Linked DNA regions of Homo sapiens. The protein of the gene in region 1 interacts with the protein of each later gene in a biochemical or structural test. Each region holds a gene or a part of one and is shown in the gene's direction. Other genes may lie near its edges. The genes, in order: MID1, STK36, PPM1A and PTPA.

The links.
Region 2: of the proteins of MID1 (region 1) and STK36, one has a biochemical effect on the other in vitro, tested with the Homo sapiens proteins (one study listed by BioGRID).
Region 3: the proteins of MID1 (region 1) and PPM1A form a complex in vitro, tested with the Homo sapiens proteins (one study listed by BioGRID).
Region 4: of the proteins of MID1 (region 1) and PTPA, one has a biochemical effect on the other in vitro, tested with the Homo sapiens proteins (one study listed by BioGRID).

What each region holds. Positions count from the first base shown.
Region 1 is NC_000023.11:10,449,586-10,456,612, reverse strand, and holds part of MID1 (E3 ubiquitin-protein ligase Midline-1), read left to right. Parts: intron 1-1,535; coding exon 1,536-1,743; intron 1,744-6,896; coding exon 6,897-7,027. UniProt on the Homo sapiens protein: Has E3 ubiquitin ligase activity towards IGBP1, promoting its monoubiquitination, which results in deprotection of the catalytic subunit of protein phosphatase PP2A, and its subsequent degradation by polyubiquitination.
Region 2 is NC_000002.12:218,696,080-218,703,106, forward strand, and holds the end of STK36 (serine/threonine-protein kinase 36), read left to right. Parts: intron 1-447; coding exon 448-522; coding exon of another isoform or gene 523-555; exon of another isoform or gene 556-918; intron 919-959; coding exon 960-1,134; intron 1,135-1,383; coding exon 1,384-1,531; intron 1,532-1,774; coding exon 1,775-1,922; intron 1,923-2,522; coding exon 2,523-3,269; intron 3,270-5,786; coding exon 5,787-5,930; 3' UTR 5,931-6,636; downstream 6,637-7,027.
Region 3 is NC_000014.9:60,287,201-60,294,227, forward strand, and holds part of PPM1A (protein phosphatase 1A), read left to right. Parts: exon of another isoform or gene 1-1,355; intron 1,356-2,605; coding exon 2,606-2,714; intron 2,715-4,196; coding exon 4,197-4,254; intron 4,255-5,252; coding exon 5,253-5,282; 3' UTR 5,283-7,027. UniProt on the Homo sapiens protein: Enzyme with a broad specificity. Negatively regulates TGF-beta signaling through dephosphorylating SMAD2 and SMAD3, resulting in their dissociation from SMAD4, nuclear export of the SMADs and termination of the TGF-beta-mediated signaling.
Region 4 is NC_000009.12:129,114,415-129,121,441, forward strand, and holds part of PTPA (serine/threonine-protein phosphatase 2A activator), read left to right. Parts: intron 1-6,098; coding exon 6,099-6,196; intron 6,197-7,027. UniProt on the Homo sapiens protein: PPIases accelerate the folding of proteins. It catalyzes the cis-trans isomerization of proline imidic peptide bonds in oligopeptides. Acts as a regulatory subunit for serine/threonine-protein phosphatase 2A (PP2A).

The sequences.
Region 1 (7,027 bases):
GAGCTGCCTTGGCCTCTCAAAGTGCAGGCATTACAGGCATGAGCCACCAGCCCAGCCTAAGCTTTTCTTTGATATGTACAGAAATAGATTTCTAAAACAAAAGCCAGCTAACTATAGCTCAAGGGCCAAATCTGGCTGCCTGATTTTGTAAATAAAGTTTTATTAGCATATAGCCACACCCATTCATTTACCTATTGTCCTGTCCGTGGCTGCCCCCTCACTATAGCAGAAGAGTTGAATAGTCACAAAAGAGACCACATGGCCTGGCCTGCATAGCCAAAAATATTTACTGTCAGGCCCTTTGCAGAAAAAGTATGCTGGTCCGTGACCTAAAAAGAAAGGATTTTAGAGGTGCTGGTGTTGTGTTGTGTTTGTATCCAAAAGGCAACTGGAAATCCTTTGGCCTACCCACATGTGACAACACACACTGTCCTATACTCACTGGGTCAGTTTCTCGCCCAGCATCGTGTATTGCCACAGTTGAATTTACTAGACCTTTTCCTGTGATTGAGAGCTGTATACTGGGCAGAAGGAACCTGCCAACTGCAACAGTGACTGTGGAGTTTGGACACCATGGCATTTGTATCAGGTTGCAATGCATTTCCTGCCTTTAAACGCCTTGTACCCAATGCAGTGTTGAATGACAGGCAGTACTCCAAACCAATATTGAATTGTCAAAGAAGAAGTAACAACTATGACAAAATGTCCAGGTGTGACTCTGCCAAGATTTTTTTAATACTTAAATCTTTAAGACACAAATGTGAGTAATGAAATAGAGAAGGCCTTATTATATATAAATAATTTCATGAGTAGAAAACCCAGGCATTGCTATCACATTTTTTCCTAATTTTGTGGCCTGAAAATTGTATTCTCATCCTAAATTCCTAAGAGTAATGCTTTAATTTTTAATAATCTCAGAATAATATAAACCTCTAGAATATTCTATATGTTAAGACCCAAGATCTTGATTTGTTTGGTTTCTGGTCTGAAGTCTATTGAGCATGAATGCATCTTATGCTGGATAGAACACTGCAGTGGTTGAAAATGGAGTCTTCATTCATTCCTCCTTTTCAGGATGCTATCCAGCCAGTATGTACCTGTGCTGCTTGTATACACCTGGAATCCGTGAAGCTAGCTCACCCTATGTTTTCTGGCTAAGCCTTATCCATGCTGTTGTTGAATAGTTGGCATGCCACCACTGGATCCCTATCTTAGAACTGGTAGACTGAAAGCTTATGAAGACAGGAACATGTTCTTTTTCACTCTTACTGTGTACTGTACTATACACAGAGTTGCTGCTCTCTATTGTCTTTTGAATATTATGAAAACTTTGCAAGCAAATGTCTTTGAAAGTTGCTTATAATGTTTAAATTACTATTAAAATATAAGATACCACTTTGTGATAGGAGGCATGACTCAGGGAGGGCTGGCTTGTTCCTGTCTTTTAAACCTGATTTTGAAAATATGCTATTGGTTATGATAAAATAAACAATCCTCTTCCTCTTCCTTTTTCTGTTTTGTGAATTTGTTTTCAGGCCAACCATTTAAACTGGATCCCAAATCTGCTCATCGAAAACTGAAGGTGTCCCATGATAACTTGACAGTAGAACGTGATGAGTCATCATCCAAGAAGAGTCACACACCTGAACGCTTCACCAGCCAGGGGAGCTATGGAGTAGCTGGAAATGTGTTTATTGATAGTGGCCGGCATTATTGGGAAGTGGTCATAAGTGGAAGCACATGGTAAGCAACTTATTTCTATTGTCCTGCAGTTATAAAAAGGCACATCTCATTCTGTACTTAGAGAGTCAACCCATACTGTAATGCATCTTAAAGAATAAAATGCAGAAAAGTTGTATTAGTCAGCTCTTGCTAGGATAATACTGCATAACAAACACCCCCAAACTCAGCAGATTCAAACAACAACCATATATTACTAATACCCACACCTGTGGGTTCTCTGTTCAAGATTATAGAGCTCTGATCATTGGATGAGCTATACCATGTTAACACTGCTCTTTCATGCCATGAAACATGGGTTGGCAAACCACAGCCCATGAGCCAAACCTGGCCTGCTACCTGGTTTTGTAAATAAAGTTTTATGGGAATACAGCCAGGTCCATTTTTTTACATATAGTCCATGGCTGCCTTTCAGCCACAACAGCAGAATCGAGTAGTTAAGAGAGAATCATATGGTCTACGAAGCCAAAAATATTTACTTACTTTCTGGTCCTTTCCAGAAAAAGTTTGCCATTCCCTACTTTTAAACATCACTCTTCATCATTACACAAAACTAATTTCTGTTGCCTTGTATGTTTTATGGTTCTAGACTGGACCAATTAGTGCAAATAGCTAAGGGTTGAATGGTGGGGGTGAAGCAGTGATCATAGGCTGGGAATAATTTCAAAAGGCCTGTTAGATCCAGCCCAGTGACTTTAGCCCACTGAGTTCTCTAAGAATAAGGGCAAAGGTCAGGACACAATTACATTGGAATTAGTTAACCTCACAAAGTTAACCTTGCCTAATCCACAGCCACAACTGCACCCCTTTGACCGTCTGTCTCACAAATGCCTGCTTGCTATTGATCAAAAAGGGAGCTATTTTATTTTTATTTAACAAGCCCTCATATGGTACAAGTATGTGCCAGGCACTGGTCTAAGCATTTTACAGATGTCAACTCATTTATTCAGCCTTACAGCCCTACAAAGGTAGGTGCTAATATTATCCACTTTACTGATGAGGTGACTGAGGTATATGCTGAAGATCACAGGGTTACAAAGCTCACAGGTGGCAGAGTCAGTAAGTCTGCAGTCAAGGGTCAGGCTCTTAACCAGCAGTCCACAAACATTATCTGTAAAGGGCCAGAGATTCAATATTTCTGGTTTTGCATGCCAAATGATTTTTGTCACTAATACTCGACTCTTCTGTTGTAGTGGGAAAGCAGCCACAGACAACACCTACACAAATGGACATGGCTGCGTTCCAATAAAACTTCATTTATAAAAACAGGCAGAGGGCCAGAGTTGGCCCCTGGGTAGTAGTTTGCTGTTCCCCGCTCTTAACCACCATGGTATGCTGCTATTCACAAAAGGGTGGTATATTTTTGAAATGCTATAATTACTCTCTAGGGTTTATGACAGTGTACGTAATGAGTGATAGCTGAATCCTTGCTTTAAAAAATAAAATCAACATTCAAAATTGCATAGCCTGAAGATGGTGAGTATAACAGTGTTTCTTTCAATATAAGCATGATAAAACACTTATTTATATATAAAAAAACCTTTCAATTCAAACCTATGCAAATAATGTGACATGGCTGAGTCCTTTATATTGTAGGTAGAAATTAGCCAAAAATCTAAGAAGTGAATTGTAAGCTTCCCATCTCTCCCAATAATGGTACATACTATATTGGCTGAGCGAGTAGGTTTTCCTTTGTTGCTATCCTCATAATTCTCTTTGCCTAGAAGAGTTTTCTGTTCCAACATCCTGCCAGAGGATGGAGGACAAATCCTTCACCCCACTAGGCTCTGGGCTAGATTGGCATTTGCAATTTTTAGCTGCAGTGGGGCAAAATTAAAGCACAAAGGAAAACACAATGGATGCAGGTACAAAAAAAGCAAATGTTTCTAGTTAATTAATGTGCTGTATTAATCTGGGATAGAATCCAGGGTCTAAATGATTATTACTCTATTAATAATTAATTATGATAAATGAAACCTGATCATTATGATCTCATTGCCATTGATGAATAGTTTGCAAAATTCCATCAGACCACTTCAGTTATATAAACACACATCAGCATTACCTTGAAAACACCCTCCAGATGTCAAAACTAACTCATGAGGGGGAAAAGAAATTCTAAAATTAATTGCTACACAATTAATCTTTACAAACCTGACGGTGTCAATTTCAGAAAAATCTTCATGTAGAAAGTCACTTTACATTTCCTTGGGGGGTATTAGCAAGGAAGGGGCACCCCCTACGATTAAATGCCTGTGACATCTTGACTTGCAACAGCTAATGACATATTTGCTTATGAAATATAGTCCTGACTTTAAATTGATGTGTACATTATGATCTGTGCAATGGGGCACGTTAACATTGCTCCGAGAGACATAATTTTTATACTTTGAATTCTCCGTGTCTCACTGCGTAACTTAATGGAACATTACATTCTGCCTGCACATTTCAAGCTCAATGGAAATATGTACCTAGTTTCACAGATTAATGATACTATAATGGTATTTTCCTTTGCTTAATGGACTATACACTTAGTATTTTCTTACTCTCTAATGCTAATGTGCACTTGGTGTTTTATGAAATGGTGTTAACTAAATGAGTAATAACGGGTTCATGCAAAGATTATTAGACCAGAAGGGGTGGGGGCAGCATACAACTCTGGATTTTGCTCCCAATTTTAATCTTCTGTTTCTACTTGCTACATGTAGTCAGCCATACCTGCCACAGCTATTTCATAGGGTTCAGTTAAGGTTCAAATGGGAAATAAACATCAAAGTAATAAAAAATAAAAATGCTGTGCCACAACAAGAAGGAAACAATACAGATGTGGTGATTTTGTGATGCAGGTTCCAAATTGTCTGAAAAGCGGAAATAGTATTCACTGGGGTATACAGAACATTTTTGGGGGGTGGGAGATACTGACAATTGCAAAATGAAAACCTTTCCAAAATGTATGTATTAGTCTGTTTTCATGCTGCTGGTAAAGACATAACCAAGACCAGGCAATTTGCAAAAGAGGTTTATAATGGACTTACTTACTTACAGTTCTATGTGGCTGGGAAAGCCCACAATCATGGCAGAAGGCAAGGAGGAACAAGTCCCGTCTTACATGGATGGCAGCAGGCAAAAAGAGAGCTTGTGCAGGGAAACTCCCCCGTTTTAAAACCATCAGATCTCATGAGACTTATTCACTATCACGAGAACAACACTGAAAGGACCTGCCCCCATGATTCAATTTCCTTCCACCGGGTCCCTCCCACAACATGTGGGAATTCAAGATGAGATTTGGGTGGGGACACAGCCAAACCATATCAGTGTATCAAATAAACAGATGACATTTGAGACCCTCGATGCATGCCACAGAAGGGAGCCAGAAGCTTACAGGACCCTGGAAGGGCTGGGGCATGAAGTCAGGGAGTCTGCTGCTCTAGTTCATGGAGTCATGATGAGCTGTAGCTGCTGCAAAGTTGCCCACAGCACAAGGCAGGTGTACTCAGGCGCTCATCTAGAAGCTTCCACCAACCGCACGTCTACTGTCTGCCATCAGGAAAGCGTGTTTCCCCTCCTCTAAGCACTTCTGGATCTTGTGCAAAGGCATCACAATAGCAGAGCCTGACCCAGACTCCTACAGGAAAGGGGATTCTGGGAAATGCAACTTGGATTCTCCTCATAAGCAGGAGAGGATGGACGGGAGGGAAGAGAGGATGCAACATTGATGACAGACAGGCCTGCACACTGGGCTTGGCAGATTATCAATTCCATCCTTCTTTTGGATTTAGTGATGGCATGTTGTGTTAATTTTCTTTTTAAACAAACACACCACTCTTAAAGTGATTGTATTTTAAGTCCAGTGTGATTTTTTTTAAAGAATGTCATTTTATTAAAGACCCATGAAATTTTTCTCTCTGCATTGGGTAAGGTACCATATGTTAATATCCAATTAGACTGGTTTCTGCTATAACATATTAAAAGTTCAACTGTGAGTCATTTACTCTTTATAAAGAGTGATGGGTTTTGTTTATCTTAATAACTGAAATACGATGAATATTACAGAGGCATGACTCAGAGGGGTAAAAAGAGATTAAGATGCTTAGAACATTGTAGAAAGCATTCTTTGGATTTTTTTGAGCAGCAAGAGAACATTTAGAATAACCAGAAGATCCGTCTGCTCAAACACGTTCAGAATTTTTTTTCCAGTATAATCAGAAAGGCTCTTGGCAGTGATGAACTGCACAATTTCTGGTTACGGATGGCATTGTAGAATGTAGTTCGTGTTTGTGGGTTTTGAGTCATCCTGAGTTCAAATTCTGATTCTGGTACTTATTGTTAATATGTGCCATCAGGCAATAATAATAAAATAAATAGCAGTTACTGAATATTACATGCCAGGTCCTGTGCCTGGGACTTAACATGTATTCTCTCCTTTACTCCTTAAAATAACACTGTATATTTCTCAATATACATGAGAAAATTGGGGCTGAGTAATGACAAAGGATTTATCCCTGCAAATGGGAATCATCTTCTGTGCTTGCCCTTGGCAAAGTGCATTCAGAATCAGAAAATGACAGACATGGTGTTAAATGAAAAATTATAAGAAGGTCAAAAGGAGAAGTCTAGGGTTGTGCTGTCCAGTATGGTAGCTATGAGCCACAGGCAGCTATTTAAATCATTTAACTTAATGAAAATTAAATAAATTTAAAGTTCAGTTCCTCAGTCTCACCAGCCGCAGCTAAAGTGCCCAGTAGCCATATGTGGCTTGTGGTTACCATATCGAGGAGAGCAGAACATTTCAGTCATTGAAGAAAGTTCTTTTGGTCAGCACTGGTCTAGCGAATTCATTGTGTAGATTTTTATAAGAGTGAAAAAAAGCAGCAAAACTCAAAGTTCAAATTCTCCGTAGTGTTTGAGCTGAAAACAGAAATGTGGGTAAATACGACGCTTCTTTCCACCCACTACTTTCCACCCACTTTCCATGTTTGGGAGGGAAGGAGATGAGGAACACAGATGTTGGGGTTCTTGCCAAGCTTTCACTTAAAGAAAATGAACAGGGACAACAAATGATCATGTTTTTATAACCCCTGAGGACCACAGAACGGATTTAACGTGCATGTGCAACATGGCTCATTGTTTTTGTTGTTGCTGTTTTGTTTCCGCAGGTATGCCATTGGTCTTGCTTACAAATCAGCCCCGAAGCATGAATGGATTGGGAAGAACTCTGCTTCCTGGGCGCTCTGCCGCTGCAACAATAACTGGGTGGTGAGACACAATAGCAAGGAAATCCCCATTG
Region 2 (7,027 bases), on another chromosome or scaffold:
TCTGGAACTCCTGACTTCCTGATCCCCCCGCCTCAGCCTCCCAAAGTGCTGGGATTACAGGCGTGAGCTACCTCAGTGGCTGAATTCTTTATAATTTATAAAACATTTTCACATGTTATCCCACAACACACTTGAAATATAGACACACCAATGTAATAATACTCATCTGCTTTTTCTAGACTAAGTTAGCCTTCAGAGAGGTTGTATCACTAGTGATAGCACTAACACTCATCCAGAAGTCTAAGTCAGAACTTTGGGAGTCATCAGTGACTGTTCTCTCTTCCCCATTATTCCCCCACCGAAATGGTTCCCCCAGGCCCCATATATTCTACCTTCCGGTTGACTCTCAAATCTGTTCCCTCCATGGCACCATCACTGACCTGCCTTGGTTTAACGGACACCCCATTCCTCTTAGGCACCTGCATTCTTCATGTTTCTCTCTGACAGGTTCGGTTGACTCCACCAGGTAGTTGTGGATTCTATGATGGCCTCCTTATCCTTCTGTTGCAGCTCCTCACTGAGGTACAGATGGATCTTGGGATGGATGGGAAGTAAAGAGAGAGGAACTGGGCATTTTGGGGAGCCTCTGGACCAGAGGAATGAAGAAGCAACCCACAGCCTTCCCTCTCAAGCTACTGTGCCTGTGATAGCCTTGGAACTTCCCCGCCTGCCCTCAGTACTGACCCTTTGAAGGAAACCATTCGCTGCGTCCCCTGGGATCCAGTGGGAGATAAAATGAATTCCCTGGGTTTCAGCAGACATACACATGAGTTGTGAGGTCAGAGGGTTAAGGTTTGATAAGAAAATGAAATAAGACGACAGGGAAATACTAGGTGGGAAAGCGGAAGGAATTATTTCTGGGACTTCCTTTACTTGTAAGTCAGGGACAGGAATGAATAAAAGCATTTGGATTCCTGACTTCTGTCTTTCCCCCCGCCCTCTTTCACTTTTATCTCTAGCAGGGGAAGGCTAGCCTAATCAGGGATATGTCCAGTTCAGAAATGTGGACCGTTTTGTGGCACCGCTTCTCCATGGTCCTGAGGCTCCCCGAGGAGGCATCTGCACAGGAAGGGGAGCTTTCGCTATCCAGTCCACCAAGCCCTGAGCCAGACTGGACACTGATTTCTCCCCAGGGTATCTTTCTATCAGTATCCTTTTTGGGAGTGCATTGATCTCTCTTCAAGAGGAGGCAGCCCAGAACTGGGTTAACCCACAGAGGTTTATTTTTTTTGCTTTTGCCTGGGGACAGGAAGCAGTGTCTGCACTAGAGCTGCTCTAAGATGGGGAAGGGACTGAATAGGTGTAGCCCTGGGAGCTGTGGGGAAGCAGGGGTATCTGGGCGTCTTGCCTGTTCCATTGGGTCTCCATTTTTGGTGTTACCAGGCATGGCAGCCCTGCTGAGCCTGGCCATGGCCACCTTTACCCAGGAGCCCCAGTTATGCCTGAGCTGCCTGTCCCAGCATGGAAGTATCCTCATGTCCATCCTGAAGCATCTGCTTTGCCCCAGCTTCCTGAATCAACTGCGCCAGGCGTGAGTTTGAGCTAGAAGAGAGCCACAGAGTCAGCAACGGGGAGGGAGAAAGAAGAAGGCAGGAAAGAAGTTACTGACAGATTGAGCTATAAAGCAAGAAAGATGAGATCAGGTTTAGGCTGGAAACCTAAGTAGTGGCTGAGACTGTAGAAGGGGAGTTGGGCAAAGGAATTGGAGGAGGGAGGGAGGAATGATAAAGGTTAAGTGAACAAGACCAAGTCTCTTCGACATTCCTCTCCTTAGGCCTCATGGGTCTGAGTTTCTCCCTGTCGTGGTGCTCTCTGTCTGCCAGCTCCTTTGCTTCCCCTTTGCGCTGGACATGGATGCTGACCTCCTTATAGGTGTCTTGGCCGACCTCAGGGACTCAGAAGTTGCAGCCCATCTGCTGCAGGTACTTGGGCAGCTAGCATGAAGGTGGGAGAGGAAGATAGCCAACCTTGTATCCTCTAATTTACTTCCCAGCAGCTCCAGGGCTCTTCTAGGCCCCTGTAAGCATGGAACAGCTGGCTTGACTCAAAAGTTGGCGTGGAGACAGTACTCAGACCTGCGCATGTGGTGGAGGCATGTGGTGGGAGCTGGGTTGGTGCCTCCTCCTCTCCATCAGTCCATCACCTGGTTCTGTTGGTGCTCATTGGGGAGAACATCCTAGTCTAGGCACTGAAGACTCACCTCCTTGGCCAGGAATCATGTTTCTGGCAATTCTTGGCATTGCACAGTGGGTCTTTGTTCTTTTGTTGTTTCTTTTTGTTTTTTCACAGTGGGTCTTTGAAGGCAGAGACTGAGCCCTTGCAAAGTAAGGAATGATCTTGGAAAGAACCTGCTCTCTCAGGCTCCACGTTGTGTCTCATGTGGAGTGCTGTGGGGCAGGACTTCCAGCTCTCTGTGGCATTTCTCACCATAGCTTGGCTTTTCTCTCTCCCAGGTTTTGGGCTTCTTTATAGCTGCATATACTCTCTCTCTCCCTGAATCCTTTTACCTCCTGTTCTCTCAGGTCTGCTGCTACCATCTTCCGTTGATGCAAGTGGAGCTGCCCATCAGCCTTCTCACACGCCTGGCCCTCATGGATCCCACCTCTCTCAACCAGTTTGTGAACACAGTGTCTGCCTCCCCTAGAACCATCGTCTCGTTTCTCTCAGTTGCCCTCCTGAGTGACCAGCCACTGTTGACCTCCGACCTTCTCTCTCTGCTGGCCCATACTGCCAGGGTCCTGTCTCCCAGCCACTTGTCCTTTATCCAAGAGCTTCTGGCTGGCTCTGATGAATCCTATCGGCCCCTGCGCAGCCTCCTGGGCCACCCAGAGAATTCTGTGCGGGCACACACTTATAGGCTCCTGGGACACTTGCTCCAACACAGCATGGCCCTGCGTGGGGCACTGCAGAGCCAGTCTGGACTGCTCAGCCTTCTGCTGCTTGGGCTTGGAGACAAGGATCCTGTTGTGCGGTGCAGTGCCAGCTTTGCTGTGGGCAATGCAGCCTACCAGGCTGGTCCTCTGGGACCTGCCCTGGCAGCTGCAGTGCCCAGTATGACCCAGCTGCTTGGAGATCCTCAGGCTGGTATCCGGCGCAATGTTGCATCAGCTCTGGGCAACTTGGGACCTGAAGGTTTGGGAGAGGAGCTGTTACAGTGCGAAGTACCCCAGCGGCTCCTAGAAATGGCATGTGGAGACCCCCAGCCAAATGTGAAGGAGGCTGCCCTCATTGCCCTCCGGAGCCTGCAACAGGAGCCTGGCATCCATCAGGTATACCCTACAGCACTTATGAACCATGATGATCAGGGCCCCTATAGTTGACAACATTTCTCTGAGATCATCTGTAAGGAATTGGAATCGGGACATGGAGAAACTTATGCCGTGTTTCTCCCAGGGACAGTGTCTTGGAGTGAGTTTTCTAGTTACATCTCCTGCCTTGGAGGAGGGAAGGGAGCTAGAAGAGGGCTCCAATGGGCTGGGAAATGTCTGAGATCTCAAGGACCACAGTTGATCTCTTCTAGAGGCTGTGCAGGAGGGAGATGAGGGAAGACTAAGAGATGCTGAGATAGAGTAGTTTTACTCTGTGTGCCATGAAGGTGCTGACTATTTTTTTTTTAGACTTACCATGAGAAAAGCACGATGCTAAGCATTTTACCTTTATTATCTGGTTTAAACTATTATTATCCTAATTTTGCAGATGAGGAAACTGAGGCACAAATAATTTAATAACTTGTCCAAATTACAAGGACAGTATGTAGGATTGGGCTTTTGAACTCAGAAGTCTGAGTCCAGAGCCCGTACTCTTAACCACTACTTTATCCTTCCTCTTCTGCGCAACTTTCTTTTTCCTTTTTTTTTTTTCTGAGACAGAGTTTCACTCGTACTGCCCAGGCCGGAGTGCATGGCATGATCTCGGCTCACCACAACTTCTGCCTCCCGGGTTCAAGCAGTTCTCCTGCCTTAGCCTCCCGAGTAGCTGCATTATAGGCATGTGCCACCACGCCTGGCTAATTTTGTATTTTTAGTAGAGACAGGTTTCTCCATGTTGGTCAGGCTGGTCTCGAACTCCCAACCTCAGGTGATCCACCTGCCTTGGCCTCCCAGAGTGCTGGGATTATAGGCGTGAGCCACTCTTTTTTTTTTTGAGACTGAATATCACTCGTTGCCCAGGCCAGAATACAGTGGCGCAATCTCAGCTCACTGTAACCTCTGCCTCCAGGTTCAGCCAATTCTTGTGCCTCAGCCTCCTGAGTAGCCGGGACTATAGGTGCCTGTCACCATGCCCGGCTAATCTTTGTATTTTTATTATTTATTTATTTATTTATTTACTTATTTATTTTTAAGATGGAGTCTCGCTCTGTTGCCCAGGCTGGAGTACAATGGCACAATGTTGGCTCACTGCAACCTCTGCCTCCCAGGTTCAAGTGATTCTCCTGTCTCAGCCTCCCAAGTAGCTGGGATTACAGGCACACACCACCTTACCTGGCTAATTTTGCATTTTTAGTGGAGACAAGGTTTCACCATGTTGGCCAGGCTGGTCTTGAACTCCTGACCTCAAGTGATCCACCCGCCTCAGCCTCCCAAAGTGTTGGGAATACAGGTGTGAGCCACCCTGCCTGACCGCGATTTTCAGTATATAAAGAGTCCAGTAGGCCAGGCTCTGTGGCTCTTGCCTGTAATCCCAGCACTTTGGGAGACTGAGGTGGGCGGATCACTTGAGGTCAGGAGTTTGAGACCAGCCTGGCCAACATAGTGAAACCCTGTCTCTACTAAAAATACAAAAATTAGCTGGGTGTGGTGGCAGGCGCCTGTAATCCCAGCTTCTCGGGAGGCTAAGGCAAGAGAATCCCTTGAACCTGGGAGGAGGAGGTTGCAGTGAGCGGAGATCATGCCTCTGCATTCCAGCCTGGGTGACATAGCGAGACTCTGTCTCAAAAAAAAAAAAAAGCCCATTGGAAATCACAGATATCTACATATGGTAATATAAATTATGACATCTCAAAGTGGTAGCATTGGGAAGTTCATGCAGAGCAGAAATTTGAGAGGATGGTGAAGATCTTTTTTTTTTTTTTGAGACGGAGTCTCACTTTGTCGCCCCCAGGCTGGAGTGCAGTGGCGCGATCTTGGCTCACTGCAAGCTCTGCCTCCCGGGTTCACGCCATTCTGCCTCAGCCTCCCGAGTAGCTGGGACTACAGGCACCTGCCGCCACACCCAGCTAATTTTTTGTATTTTTTTTTTTTTTAGTAGAGACGGGGTTTCACCGTGATAGCCAGGATGGTCTCGATGTCCTGACCTCGTGACCCGCCCGCCTTGGCCTCCCAAAGTACGGGATTACAGGCATGAGCCACCTTGCCTGGCCGATGGTGAAGATCCTATAGGAATCTTGTGCAATCCATGGGGAAAATAATTAATGGGATTCTTGGTGGTAATGAGGTTAGAACTCACTGGTCTGCATTGAAGGCTAGGAATTAGACCTTTTGGCTTACTGTGAGTTACTGCTGCATTCATCAAGTCTTCCTGGGGACAAGTATATGTGTCCCTTAGTGCCTTGGTTTCATGGTCTATAACCAAAGAGAATGGAAGTAGACTTCTGGTCCTGATGATTCCTATCTCCAAGGTTTCTCTTCTGCCATTCAGTCTATTCCAAGTCCCCAAGAGCCCATTTCCTTTTTCTTCCTCTTCTCGAGTGGGAATTCCTGGGTAAATGAGAGTCCTCCGCACCTGCCCCAGACACCACCATTTCTGAGCCTCATGTTCTGTTCTATCATCTGTTCTCTATCCTACAGGTACTGGTGTCCCTGGGTGCCAGTGAGAAACTATCCTTGCTCTCTCTGGGGAATCAGTCACTGCCACACAGCAGTCCTAGGCCTGCCTCTGCCAAACACTGCAGGAAACTCATTCACCTCCTGAGGCCAGCCCATAGCATGTGATTCCAGATTCCTGCGGTCCAGCCTCCAACTTTGGTTGCCAGCTCTTTCTTATTCTACTACACAAGCCGCCAACTCAACTGAGAGCTAAAGAGACTAGAAAAGAGATAAGCTGCCAACTCAACTGAGAACAAGAAACTAGAAGAGATTTATATATAAAGCTTCTTCCTTCTCCCAGATGCAGGATGTTTTCAACCAGTAAATTTTATTGCTGTTGGTGCCAGAGAAGAGTCCTTTCTTCTCTACATCCAGGGGCCTTTTCTCCAATAATGTGCCTTTAACTCTAGGGACCTGCCTCACGGACCTTAGGGAAAAACCTCAACCTGAAAGATCTCTTCCTTTCTGGAGCTCCTTTAATCTTCCCAGCAGGTTTTTGCCTTAGACGTGCTGGCCCCAGGACAGTGATGAAGACAGAGCCTGTCTCAGCTCTAGGCTGTGGGGATCAATGCCATCAGTCCCTGTTATTGAGGGATTATCCCTTAGCCAACATTCCTATCTGTGGGTGGGCGTGGAGAGTGTATCTTTTTTTGGGGTGTGTGTGTATATGTGTGTGTGTATGTGTGTGTGTGTTTAATAGTTCTGTTTGTAAACTCTTTTAATAAAAGTTGTGCCTCACCATACTTGAAGCTCCCAGGACAAGGGTTGAGAGGCTCAACCCCTCTTTCAGCTTCTATGTGGTGTTGGAGGTGCTGGTATCGTGTTCACACAAGATCCTGGTCTGGCAGCTTATTTATATCATTTCTTGCCTTTACCAATTTCCCCCTTCCTAGATGAACTATATTTGGTTACCTACTTTCAAGTCAAGGCCGGTGGAGCTGAAATAGGAAAGGGTAAGATTCAACAGAGCGGTCAATTAGGTTGCTCAGACTTAGTGACTAATTTTAATATTTAGTGGAGTTCTAATGTGTAGGGACTCCAAGCTGCTGTAGAAGGATAGCTATTTTAAAGATTGTACAATTTACCAGAAAGGGCTTTTAGTCAGACCTGTTAGAATTATAATCTAACTGGAAGCATTGGAAAACCTTAACTCATTGGATGGCTTAGAACAAGCTTCCAGGGCCTTGATTTCTCCATCCATAAAATGAGGAGACTCCTTTCTG
Region 3 (7,027 bases), on another chromosome or scaffold:
AGTTTTAGATGGAATTATGAAATATTCACTTTACGTTATTTTGTTACAATAATAAGTTTTATATTTCTTATTATCAAGCAAGAGTTGCCACCTGGACAGAGTTTACATTGATACTCAATATTTTTGATATGTTAAAGTGTTATTATACTTGTACCATTCAATTGGAGATTGTCATAAATTAAATATGGTATTTTTTACTCAGATTTGATGAGACTGCAACTAGAGAATAAATATTACATTAAAATTGCTGCTATTTTAAAACATAGAATGTAACTGTTTGTATTGTAAAAGTTGTGTGTCCTCAGTGAAAAATACTGCCTTCAGCTTCCAAAGCAGGCACCTGAATGCCTTTTTCTTTTCTCTCTCTCTTCTTTCTTTAAATACATGCCTTCACTAGATTGCTGTGACCTACTAAACCTCATTTTATTTGCTTGGAACATTTTTGGCTTCTCTGTCCACACCATAGAAAAGGACAAAGGCCTTCCAGCTCTCCTTTTCTCTTATTTGTTCCCTTCTAAATACTTGACTCTCTGGGGGTGTGAAAAGATTCAGCTCATAATTTATACTACTATTAATTTTGTGGTCCTTCTAAGCCAATTTAAAATTATACTTTTGTGTATATATTTTCAAAATCTTTGCTACTGACTACCTTAGCTTTAAAGTTGCTAATTTGGAGATGACTGATAGAATCCCTGAAACTTGGTGGAGGGGAGTGGAAAGGAGCAGAATGTGTTTGTGTATATGTATGTGAAACATGGATCTTCTATATATAAATATTCTTTAGAAAAAGCGTTCAGTCTTTTTACAATTCTAAGTAAAACGTATAGGTCAACAGAAATTAAAGGAATATTTCTTAAAATTCATTTATTTTTCTTTTTTGAAAGCAGACAGAAGCAAGGCTAGTATAGTATGAATGGTCAGGTAGTTTAAATGCGTTGTCCCACGTGGAACAGGAGATATTAACTGTTTTTAAAGCTTTACATTATTTTTTTACAAGAATTTGTTTTCCTGTAATTTTCTTCACAGTTAAAATATCCTAATTTATATTTTAACAAAAGAGATGTAAGATACATCAAATATAGATGATTCAAGGTAATGTTTTTTAGACCTGAAACTATTGATTCAATTTATCATCAGTGTTTATTTCTATTGTATCTAGTTATCTATCCAAATAATTGTATTGGCTTAGCGGAGACTGTATGTTAAGTGTATTAGTTTTAGATTGTGAAATTGTGCAGTTTAGGTAAACATCAAATCCCTTTATTTTTGTACAGCAGATTTCCAGCATTAGAACCATGTAGAACAAATATACTAGATGTTAAAGATTACACAATAAAGGAACTTGGCAAACCAAATCTGAGATCCTTGCTTTTTGTTCAGATTTAAGACTGTTTTTTTTTTTAAGGCAAAAAATAATAGATGGTAAAAATTTGGCCTTTATTCTAAAAGGACAGTTTGAACCATTTAAAGAAATATTATGGGTAGCCATGTCTTTAAAAATTTTGAGGCCTGATCAAAGGACGAATCTTTATACACATTGTTATTTTCAAAGGTATTTACAAATTGAGAAGCAGAATGATGATTTCTTGCCCCACTAATGACAAATAAAATACCATTTCTTACCATAAACATTGAAAAACAAACTGAACAAAACTTGACCATATAACTTACAAATACTTTTGACTTGAATTTGCATGTGGAGTATGTGTGCTAAAACTGCAAGTGAAGACTTTTTATACTTAGAGGAATAGTTGTAGAGTTCTTTGTAAGGTTCTTTGTTCATAATTTTTTATATTTTGTGATGTGAATAATAGTATGCATCTGCATGACAACACTGCAGATCATATTGCTGTGCCCTTTTAATAACTGGATATTTTAAAATTATTTTAAATGCAGTTGTATGGTTTATCAAATGGTTCTCTTTTTAAACATTTTATAAGGAAATTTAGACCTTTTCTATTCAAGGCTTTGTTGAAGTAATCAGTGAAGGAAATGGTATTATATATCTATACAGTATATTGTTTAAAGGTACTTTAGAGAAGAATTAAACTGAGACAGTGATGTTCAAGTACATAATCTGTGCATGCTATTTAAGTATCATTTTGCAAATATAAATATATACATAAAAATAATTGAGTTAGTATATAATCTATAAATTCCCCTATAATTAAGGGTTGTTATTTTCAAATCTTGAAATTGTTTATTTTTTAAAATTCCACGCAGTGTATTATATAGGGCAAAGTTCAGGAAACATGTTTCCAGTCTAAAGAGAGGAGTGATGTAAGAAGAAACTAGTTGACATCTTAAGAAAGGGTATTCTCACTTGTGCACACATATCCTTGATTATATAATATGCTGATTTAACATGAAATATTTTTTCACATTTTAATTTTGATTTGAAGTTAATCTTATATGTCATTTTGTGCATTTTTTGTCATAAATCTTCAAAGGTCAACCTGATTTTTTTTTTTTTTAAATGATACCAGATTAGAAAAATCTCAGATGTGGTAAATGCCATCTTTAAAAAGCTAGGTTATCTTTGTTTCGGTTTTCTTTTCAATTAAATTTGGATAACACTTACAAAAAAAGTACTTCTGATTCCCAGAAATCATAAAGAAGCAGGGGGAAGGCGTCCCCGACTTAGTCCATGTGATGCGCACATTAGCGAGTGAGAACATCCCCAGCCTCCCACCAGGGGGTGAATTGGCAAGCAAGTAAGTTACATTCTGTACACTCTTATGCTTTATGTCAGTGTATGAAAATGTTAGGTATTCATTGATAAAATGTTTGTTTGCCTAATTTCTGAACTGATGCAGTTATCTGTGTTTTAACCTGTGATTTCAATTTTTTTTTAGTATTAGAATATCTAGAGTTTGTTTAGACATAGGTATCAGTATCATTGTAACTAATTGCAGTGAGGGTTGTCTTTATTGGAAGCTTGGTTGGCATTGATTTCCTCATAGAGCATAAACGAGATAATATACTGAAAGAACTTTTTAAACTAAATTACATAGCACTACATAAAAATTTACAAAATTCTAAGTGTCGTTGTTAGTAGTAGTATAATTTGATTTGGTCAATCCCTGAGTAACTTAACACCCTGAAAATTCCCCTTCCTCATATGGACCATGTTTCTATGCCTGATTTTCCCAGTATTTTTGGTTGTTGATTGCTGGTTAGTTGGTTTTAGGTGTCAGGGAAGAAGATAGAATATATTTCTTGTCTTTTCCCTTTCCACTTTAGTTCATAGAATTGGACTACTTTGTGTTAAATATTAAGCTTACACCTTTACATAATAAAGTGGAAAATTCAAGCAATTCCAAGGGTTAAAACATTTTTACCTCAAATATCCATATAATTGACTTACAAACATAAAACTTGCAAATACCTTTAGCTTGAATTTGGATATAGAGTAAATGTGCTAAAACTACAAGTGAAGACTTCTTGTACTTACAGTGAAGATATATTATTGACTAATTTTCTCGATTCTCTACTGTGTTTTGCAAGTGTGACCATGTTCTTTGTAATCACTAAATAGTGATTGTAAAAGCTCCTGTTTGAAGCTTTTATTTTTTGGAAACTTTTTTTTTCCATATGACTTTCTATGAAACGATCTATAAAATTGCTTCAAGTCAATTTTGGAAGTAGGGAGACTATAACTTATAAATATACTACAGATTTTTAATAAAGTGTTACTCAAAACTAATTCCTAGACTTGTCATGGAAATGTCTTATTTGACATTTCAGTTTTAATAGAACTTTTGAAAAGGGCATTAAGAAAAGTAGAAGCTTAAATATAAAGTATAATCTGAGACTTCAAAACTACGATGCAACTCAACTAGCTTATGTTAGTATTATATCTTAAGAATGGCATTGCCATTGATGACTCATAACCATTTAAACCAATTCAAATGGAAGTAGACTATATAGACTTTTTTTTTAATCTGTAATTTTTAGCCTTCTATTAACTGGGTTGGTAGAGTGTTATAACACATTTTAGAGTAGACTCACCTCTGCTTTAACATAGGAGCCCAAATATCTTAAAAGTGAGGCTCACTATTGACAGCAAGAAATAGAACTAAAATAATATCTGAGTATAAGATTATCTTAGAAATTTTAATAAACACCTGGCTATGAGTTACTAAGCAATGTTTTGCTTTCTGAAGAATTAATTTTCTGCATTTTTTTACACTTAGGAGGAATGTTATTGAAGCCGTTTACAATAGACTGAATCCTTACAAAAATGACGACACTGTAAGTAGCATTTTAGCTCCCTCTGCTTTCCCTTCCCCTCCACTCTAAATGCATATCCTTCCTACCTGTTTTTGCAGAGCTGTTCACTGTACCCATTCTCTTACACACACCCCTGATTGATTGCTCTGAACTCTGCTTGCTCTGATCTCTGCCTGCACCACAGTTCTAGTGATTGAGGACATAATCATGGTGAGTGGCCACCTCTCTCAAAAAAGAAGAAAGTCCTTTTGAATTATTCTAGATTTTTTAAGTCTTTACAAACAATCAACTTCAGAAGGTTTGCCTCCACTACATGGTTTTTTTTTTTTTTTTTTCCCGAAGTTGGGACTATCTCTACTCAGAATATTGTCTTATTCTGAGTTTTGTAAGCAGCTGCAGCAGAACTTCGGAATGTCTGTCTCAACTAAATAGTTCTTATGGTTGGAAATACCTTTGTCAGGAATCCTGAAGTATATACTTCACTTAAATATTAGAGAATTGTTTGCATAAATAGACATTAGAATGCCATACTCTCCAGTTAAGTGTTCTGTTGCAATTCTGTTGTATGATGTTTATAGAAAAGTGATAACTTAAAGATCATGTGGGCACAGCTCTGAAATATTTTATGTATTGCATTATGAAGCTTCCTCACATATTGAGTTCTTAATCTTTTCTGATGCATTAAAGGTTTATAAAAGTGGTATTCTAAAACTGTATTGGATTTCATTAAAAAATTCTTTTTAGTAGATTTATTGATTGAGTAATACATTTGGACAGCCTCATCATAAAACCGCATTTCAAATATTTTCCAAAACAAAACAAAGGATTAACAATTCTTTGAACAGATTAAACATTGCTATTTCATATGTACACATATATACTTATATACTTTAAAAAACATTTATATTCTAAAAGTCATCTTTACAGAACATTATCTTTCTCCATTATCCAGAAAGTATGGTGTATTTTGGCACCGCTAAATTTTAACGTTGTTCCTTATTTTGCTTCCTTTTACAAAGGACTCTACATCAACAGATGATATGTGGTAAAACTGCTCATCTAGCCATGGAGTTTACCTTCACCTCCAAAGGAGAGTACAGCTCAACTTTGTTGAAACTTTTAACATCCATCCTCAACTTTAAGGAAGGGGATATGACATGGGTGAGAATGATTACATCAGAGAACTTCAGCAGTACAACAGCTAGCCCAGAACTGATTTTTTTTTTTTTTTTTGTAAATTTGAGACTTATGTAAGCGTGATTTCAAACCATAATTCGTGTTGTAAATCAGACTCCAGCAATTTTTGTTGTATGATTTTGTTTTTTTGTAAAGTGTAATTGTCCTTGTACAAAATGCTCATATTTAATTATGAACTGCTTTAAATCACTATCAAAGTTACAAGAAATGTTTGGCTTATTGTGTGATGCAACAGATATATAGCCCTTTCAAGTCATGTTGTGTTTGGACTTGGGGTTGGAACAGGGAGAGCAGCAGCCATGTCAGCTACACGCTCAAATGTGCAGATGATTATGGAAAATAACCTCAAAATCTTACAAAGCTGAACATCCAAGGAGTTATTGAAAACTATCTTAAATGTTCTTGGTAGGGGAGTTGGCATTGTTGATAAAGCCAGTCCCTTCATTTAACTGTCTTTCAGGATGTTCCTTCGTTGTTTCCATGAGTATTGCAGGTAATAATACAGTGTATTCATAAGAATCTCAATCTTGGGGCTAAATGCCTTGTTTCTTTGCACCTCTTTTCAAGTCCTTACATTTAATTACTAATTGATAAGCAGCAGCTTCCTACATATAGTAGGAAACTGCCACATTTTTGCTATCATGATTGGCTGGGCCTGCTGCTGTTCCTAGTAAGATATTCTGAATTCCATTTTATCAATAAAGCTTGATTTAACAAACAAGAAACTTAATCATGTATGTGTAATTCCTCTTTTACCCTGGCCTTTTAAAACACTGTGCCGTTGTAATGAGACGTTTCTCATAGGGAAAGATGTTAGTCTCTTTTAATTGGACAACACTGTCACTCAAGGCATAGATGAAACTTTCCTTCCATTAGAAAGACTAAAAGATTTAATTCTTGGTTGTACCTTAATCTATTTTTTAAATAGGTTTCTTTCAGGCTGCTTATTTTTCATTAAGATGTGTATCAGCTTGGATTTGCCTACTGTTTAATTAAAATATTTATTGTCAAAGTTTGACAATCTAACACTCTATGGTAGGGGTGTGTGTGTGTGTGTTTGTGAGTGTGTGTTTGCCTGTGATTTTTAATTGGCCCATGTCTTTAGAATCCAAGTGGTTAAGATGTATTTGTGATTTGAAATATAGCATGTTGATAATATTTAGCTGTTGGCCTTTACAAATAACTTTCAAAGCTTAAGGAATTGTAGATATAAAAATAACCTAATTTAATTTAGGCTTAAATTCCTCTGATTAAGCATGTGAAAGTAAGTTTTAAAATCTGTCGCATTGAAAAGATTACTGTTCCGTGCCCTTCTGTATTTTTGTCTCTTTAGGTTGAATATTGTATTTATCACCATGTAATCATTCAGTAGGCAGATTCCCACTAGAAAACTGTTGAAATGTAAGACTAAAATACAACATTGAATACAAAATCAAAATTTTGTGTATAAAAACCAGTATAGTCCATTTTGTTATATTTGTTTTTTCCCTAACTTGGAAATATACATATTTGTATATATAGCCTTAAAATTAATGTAAAGTTAGGGGAGTAGTGGGGAAAGTAATGTGAAATGTCTCAGATTTAAGTAGTTAAATAC
Region 4 (7,027 bases), on another chromosome or scaffold:
ACTTCTCTCTTTTTTAAAATTTCTTTTTTTTTCCCTGAGAAAAAGCCTCAGTTATTTCTTAAAATAACTATAGGCTACTATACTTTCTTCATAGAATTGTAGTATGTGTTTTATAAGATGTGTGCAAAGCATGGGACATAGTAGGCGATCAGTAAATGCTGATTGCCCTTATCTTTTTCAAAGTTTCAAAGTTGTACAGGTTGAACATGTAGACGAGTTTCAAATGGCCAATGATAATGCTATATATTATAGTCTTTGTTGGGGGGCTTAGGAAGGAACATTTCTAAAATTCTGAATGTTGATTTTATACTGTGAGGTTGTTGGGAATCCACTGTCCCTTGGAACCTATGTCTCTATAACCTGAGGCTGGAGAGACTGTGGGCGTGACCTCATTTATCACCATCCTGCCTTTGAAGGCTTGTTTCTTTGATTTGGGATTGTGTGTTCTGGCAACTTGTGTGTGTTTCATCAGTAATTTGTTATAGTGCTTCCTGGTAAGGTAGCCTTTTCCCAAACATGGACTGGCCTGAAGGCTCTCTTCCTGTGAAATATCCCGGTTAAATAATGTCAGGAGTGCCATCCCTTTTTTTATTTTTATTTTTTGAGACAGAGTCTCACTCTGTCACCCAGGCTGGAGTGCAGTAGCATGATCTTGGCTCAGTGCAACCTCCGAGGAGAGCTGTCCCTTTGCAGAGAATGGTGATCTCACACATATAAAAGGGCTGTATGTTCCCAAAGATTATTTCCAAGTTGATTATTTGGAATGTGGGACACATTTTCCCATAAAAGCAATGTGGTTGGGTTACTAGTCTGACCTACAAAGCTTTTTATTTGGCATCTTAGTTGAAGTGCCAATTTACTAATAGCAGTTTTGGGTTCTGGGAACAGAGCTTGCAGGACAGGTGGGAGGAGGAAGAGAGCTTCTGATCTCTTTCTGGGGCCTTGGTTTGAGTTAGGCAGAGATTTGTCTTTCTCTAAACTCAGGTTCTCTATCCTTCTCCTTAGGTCTCCAAGTCCCCTGGCACTTTTCTTTTCTTCAGTTCCTCTCCAGACAGGCTCTATTTCTCCAAATGTTATATGTTCCAGAAACTTCTTAGGTCCCTGTCCCTTTTTCTCCATGTAGCTGATGTCAGCCAGGTTTTAGGAGGAAGGCAGGGGGACAAATTTATACCAGGTTGTGAGTGATTGATGATAGTCCTTTACTCTTCCACTTTAGGGAGAGTTTGCATTTTTTTTTTTTTTGAGATGGAGTTTCACTCTTGTTGCCCAGGCTGGAGTACAGTGGCGTGATCTTGGCTCACTGTAACCTCTGCCTCCTGGGTTCAAGTGATTCTCCTGCCTCAGCCTCCCGAGTAGCTGGGATTACAGGTGCCCACCACCACGCCTGGCTAATTTTTTTGTATTTTTAGTAGATATGGGGCTTCACCATGTTGGCCAGGCTTGGTCTCAAACTCCTGACCTCAGGTGATCCACCAGCCTCCGTCTCCCAAAGTGCTGCGATTACAGGCCTGAGCCACCGCGCCTGGCCAACTGCCTCCTGGGTTCAAGTGATTCTTCTGCCTCAGCTTCGCGAGTAGCTGGGACTACAGGTGTGCGCTACCATGCCCGGCTAATTTTTTTTTTTTGAGACGAGTCTCGCTCTGTCGCCTGGTCTGGAGTGCAGTGGCGCGACCTCGGCTCACTGCAACCTCTGCCTCCTGGGTTCAAGCGATTCTGCCTGCCTCAGCCTCCTGAGTAGCTGGGATTACAGGCACTCGCCACCACGCCTGACTAATTTATTTTTTATTTGAGGCGGAGTCTCGCTCTGTTGCCCAGGCTGGAGTGCAGTGGCGCGATCTCGGCTCACTGCAAGCTCTGCCTCCTGGGTTCACGCCATTCTCTCACCTCAGCCTCCCAAGTAGCTGGGATTACAGGCATGCGTCACCTCGCCCAGCTAATTTTTTTTGTATTTTTAGTAGAGACAGGGTTTCTTTTTTTTTTTTTTTTTTTTGAGACGGAGTCTCGCTCTGTTGACCAGGCTGGAGTGCAGTGGCACGATCTTGGCTCACTGCAAGCTCCGAGTTCCATGTTCTCGCCATTCTCCTGCCTCAGCCTCCCAAGTAGCTGGGACTAAAGCACCCGCCACCATGCCCGGCTAATTTTTTGTATTTTTAGTAGAGACGGGGTTTCACCGTGTTAGCCAGGATGGTCTCGATCTCCTGACCTTGTGATCCGCCCGCCTCGGCCTCCCAAAGTGCTGGGATTACAGGCGTGAGCCACTGTGCCCGGCCACACCCGGCTAATTTTTGTTATTTTTAGTAGAGACAGGGTTTCGCCATGTTGACCAGGCTGGTCTTGAACTCCTGAGCCCAGGTGATCTGCCCACCTCTGCCTACCAAAGTGCTGGGATTACGGACATGAGCCACTTCACCTGGCTAATTTTTAAATTGTTTGTAGAGATGGGGGTCTCCCTGTGTTGCCTGGGCTGGTCTTGAATTCCTGGGCTCAAGCGATCCTGCCGCCTGGGCCTCCCAAAGTGCTGGGATTACAAGTGTTAGCCACTGTGCCTGGTCTAGATTTTCTTCTTTCTACAAGTTATGAAAATTTCCATTATGTGGGCATATAATTAATTACACATCATCTTATCAACTGATATTTGGGTTGTTTCTAATTTTTTTTTGTTTTCAAGACAGGGTCTTGCTCTGTCACCCAGGCTGGAGTGCAGCTCACTTCAGCCTCAGCCTCCTGGGCTCAAGTGATCCTCCCGCCTCAGCCCCCGAATAGCTAGGACTACAGGTGTGCACCACTACACCTGGCTAATTTTTGTATTTTTTGTAGAGATGGGGTTTGGCCATGTGGTCCAGGCTGGTTTCAAACTCCTGGACTCAAGCAATCTGCCTGCCTCGGCCTCCCGAAGTTTTGGGATTATAGGCGGGAGGCACTGTGCCTGGCCTAGATTTTATTCATTTTATAAGCTATGAAAATTTTTATTATGTGGGCCTATCTTTTTTTTCTCTTTTTTAAATTTGAGACGGAGTCTTGCTGTGTTGCCCAGGCTGGAGTGCAGTGGCGTGATCTTGGCTCACTGCAACCTCTGCCTCCTGGGTTCAAGCGGTTCTTCTGCCTCAGCCTCCCGAGTAGCTGGGATTACAGGTGTGCGCCACCATGCCTGGCTAATTTTTTGTATTTTTAGTAGAGGTGGAATTTCGCTATGTTGGCCAGGCTGGTCTTGAACTCCTGGCCTCAAGTGATCCACCCGCCTCGGATTCCCAAAGTGTTGGGATTACAGGTGTGAGCCACCACACCCAGCCTCTTTTTTTTTTTAAGACAGTCTCACTCTGTCACCCAGGCTGGAGTGCAGTGGAACGGTCCAGCTCACTGCAAGCTCTGCCTCCCCAGTTCAAGCGATTCTCCTGCTTCAGCCTCCCAAGTAGCTGGGATTACAGGTGTGTGCCGTCATGTCAGGCTAATTTTTGTATTTTTTAGTAGAGATGGGGTTTCAATATGTTTCCCAGGCCTGGTCTGGAACTCCTGACCTCAAATGATCCACCTACCTCAGCCTCCCAAAGTTCTGGGATTACAGGTGTGAGTCACCATGCCGGACCTGGGCATATCATTATTTACCCATTGTCTTATCAACTGATATTTGAGTTGTTTCTTTTTTTTTTTTTTCCCCCGAGATGGAGTCTTGCTCTGTCAACCAGAGCTGGAGCGCAATGGCACGATCTCAGCTCACTGTAACCTCTGCCTCCTGGGTTCAGGCAATTCTCCTGCCTCAGCCTCCTGAGTAGCTAGGATTACAGGTGTGCGCCACCACACTTGGCTAATTTTTGTATTTTTAGTAGAGATGGGGTTTCACCTTGTTGGCCAGGCTGGTTTCGAACTCCTGATCTCGTGATCTGCCTGTCTTGGCCTCCCAAAGTGCTGGGATTACAGGTGTGAGCCACCACGCCCAGCCTATTTGGGTTGTTTCTAATTAATAAAAAATTTTTTTATTTGAGTCAGAGTTTCACTCTTGTTGCCTAGGCTGGAGTGCGATGGCACGATCTTGGCTCACTGCAACCTCTGCCTCCTGGTTCAAGCAATTCTCCTTCCTCAGCCTCCCAAGTAGCTGGGATTATAGGCATGCGCCACCACACCTGAATAATTTTATATTTTTAGTAGAAATGGGGTTTCACTATGTTGGTCAGGCGCATCTCCAACTCCTGACCTCAGGTGTGATCCACCCACTTTGGCCTCCCAAAGTGCTGGGATTGTAGGCATGAGCCACCGCGCCCCGCCTAAAATTTTTTTTTTTTTAAAGTAGAGATGGGGTCTCGCTGTGTTGCCCAGGTTGGTGTCAAACTCCTGGACTCAAGTGATCCTCCCACCTGGGGCTCCCAAAGTGCTGAGATTACAGGTGTGAGCCACTATGCCCAGCTTTTTTTTTTTTTTTTGATGCATTAAACACCTTTGTGTTTCCGTGAGCACATCTGAAAGATAGATTCCTGTAAGTAGACCTGTTGACTCATTGTGTATATGCAGTTTTTTATTCCAAAAGATTGTCCCCTTAGGAGGTCCTTCCCACCCACAGAGCGGGAGAATTCTTGTTTCCTCTTCCTGGAATCTTGTTTTGTTTTTATTGAGACAGAGTCTCGTTCTGTTGTCCAGGCTGGAGTGCAGTGGTATGATCTCAGCTCACTGCAACCCCCACCTCCTGGACTCAGGTGATCCTCCTGCTTCAGCCTCCCAAGTAGCTGGGACTACAGGTATGCAACCACACCCAGCTAATTTTTAAATTTTTTTTGTAAAGATGGCGTTTTGCCAAGTTGGCCAGCCTGGTCTTGAACCCCTGGCCTCAAGTGATCTGCCTGCCTTGGCCTCCCAAATTGCTGGGATTAGGTATGAGCCACCACACCTAGCCAGATGTTTTTAATTTGCCAACCTTATCCAGAAAGAGAAATCACATATAATTTACGTGTCCGTGCTTATTCAGGAGGTTGGCAATTTATTCCAAATGTTTACTGCAATTAGGTTTTTTTTTTTTTTTTGAGACGAAGTCTCGCTCTGTTGCCTGGGTTGGAGTGCAGTGGTGCAATCTCGGCTCACCACAAGCTCCGCCTCCCAGGTTCACGCCATTCTTCTGCCTCAGCCTCCCAAGTAGCTGGGACCGCAGGCGCCCGCCACCACGCCTGGCTAATTTTTTTGTACTTTTTTAGTAGAGATGGGATTTCACCATGTTAGCCAGGATGGTCTCGATCTCCTTACCTTGTGATCTGCCTGCCTTGGCCTCCCAAAGTGCTGGGATTACAGGCGTGAGCCACCGCACCTGACCTGTTTTTTTTTCTTCTGTGAATTGCCTGTGTATGTCTGAAACATCAACTTGGTTTTATTTTTCTAACGGTTCTGCTCTGGGGGGGAGAGGGAAGGGAGGGCATGGTTATTGAAGGGATTGTCAGTATTGCCCTTCTCTTTCCTCCCCAGAGTGAGGGAGGGCAGGAGGCTGTGGGTTTGGCTTAACAAGCCCTTACTCTGTCCTGGAAGTATGTGTCTGGTTTATTCTAAGGCTCAGGTGTTGGAGTCCTGGTTTAAAAGTGAGAGAGAGGCCGGGCGCTTTGGCTCATACCTGTAATCCCAACACTTTGGAGGCCAAGGCGGGTGGATCACCTGAGGTCAGGAGTTTGCGATCAGCCTGGCCAACATGGTGAAACCCCGTCTCTACTAAAAATGCAAAAATTAGCTAGGCATGGTGACATACGTCTGTAATCCCAGCTACTCAGAACACTGAGGCAGGAGAATCGCTTGAACCCGGGAGGCAGAGGTTGCAGTGAGCTGAGATCGCGCCACTGCACTCCAGCCTGGGCGACAGAGCGAGACTCTGTCTCAAAGAAAAAAAAAAAAATTAGCTGGGTGTGGTGGCACGTGCCTGTAATCTCAGCTACTCAGGAGACTGAGGCAGGAGAATCGCTTGAACCCTGGAGGTGGAGGTTGCATTGAGCCAAGATCGTGTCACTGGACTCCAGCCTGGGCAACAAGAGCAAAACTCCGTCTCAAGAAAAAAAAAAAAGGTGAAAGGGAGTGTGTGTGTTGTAGGGGAGGATTCTATTTATCTGTTTGTTTTTTCATTTTTTTTTGTCAAGATTCTTCAGAGGAGGCCCCTCCAGCCACTCAGAACTTCATCATTCCAAAAAAGGAGATCCACACAGTTCCAGACATGGGCAAATGGAAGCGTTCTCAGGTACCATTTGGAACTGTGGTGAGAAACTTGGGCTTTTCAAAGACAGTGGTTTTCCTAGCATGACGGGCGGTGAGTTCCTGGCCCTTCTTGCTCTTGGAGCCTGACTTTTCAGAAGCTAGGGAGAAAGGTGACAGGGGAGCTGGCTGTCTCTTCCCTTCAGAGGCAGTACTCAGAGATGCTTTATCAGGAAGGTTGCCTACTTTTTCAGGCTGCTGCCAGGGTAGCCCGGGAGAGTTCCGCTCCTGGTTCTCTTAAGCCATTGCCCCTTGAGTGTTGCTGTATTGGCTGAACATGAGTGTTTGAAATGATGGAGCGAGTCACTTTGATTCTTGGCTGCAAGTAACAGCAAGTGTGGCAGCCAGTGCCTCAAGGGGAGAAGAGGCTATCTCATGGAAACTTTGGCCAGGGATATGGCTAAGCCTGCAAATACCTGGGAGCTGGGACCCAGAGCACTGGGCACAGACTGGCTTTCTCTGCTGCTCAGCTGAAATGATGGGCAGAAGATAACTACTTGTACCTCTCAGGCTTGTGGTACAGGCTGTGGAAAGACAGACTGAGCAAAAGAAAGCCAATTTCAATTTCTCAGGGAAGGCCTCTGGCCCAGTTCTCGTCAGGCTCCTGCTCCCGGCCTGGTGAGCTGGGCTGGAGAGTGTTGCTCATGCAGAAGGCTGGGCACAGGGGTCCTTGCATGCTGGGCAGATTCTCCAGGAGACCCACACCCTACAGCTTCTATGCCTTGTCCTCACTGGGGCTTGGGGCCATCTAAACCTGTCTGATTCCTTTTTCACAAGCCTGCCCTCTCAGTATTTGGAAATAGTTATCATGTCTTTT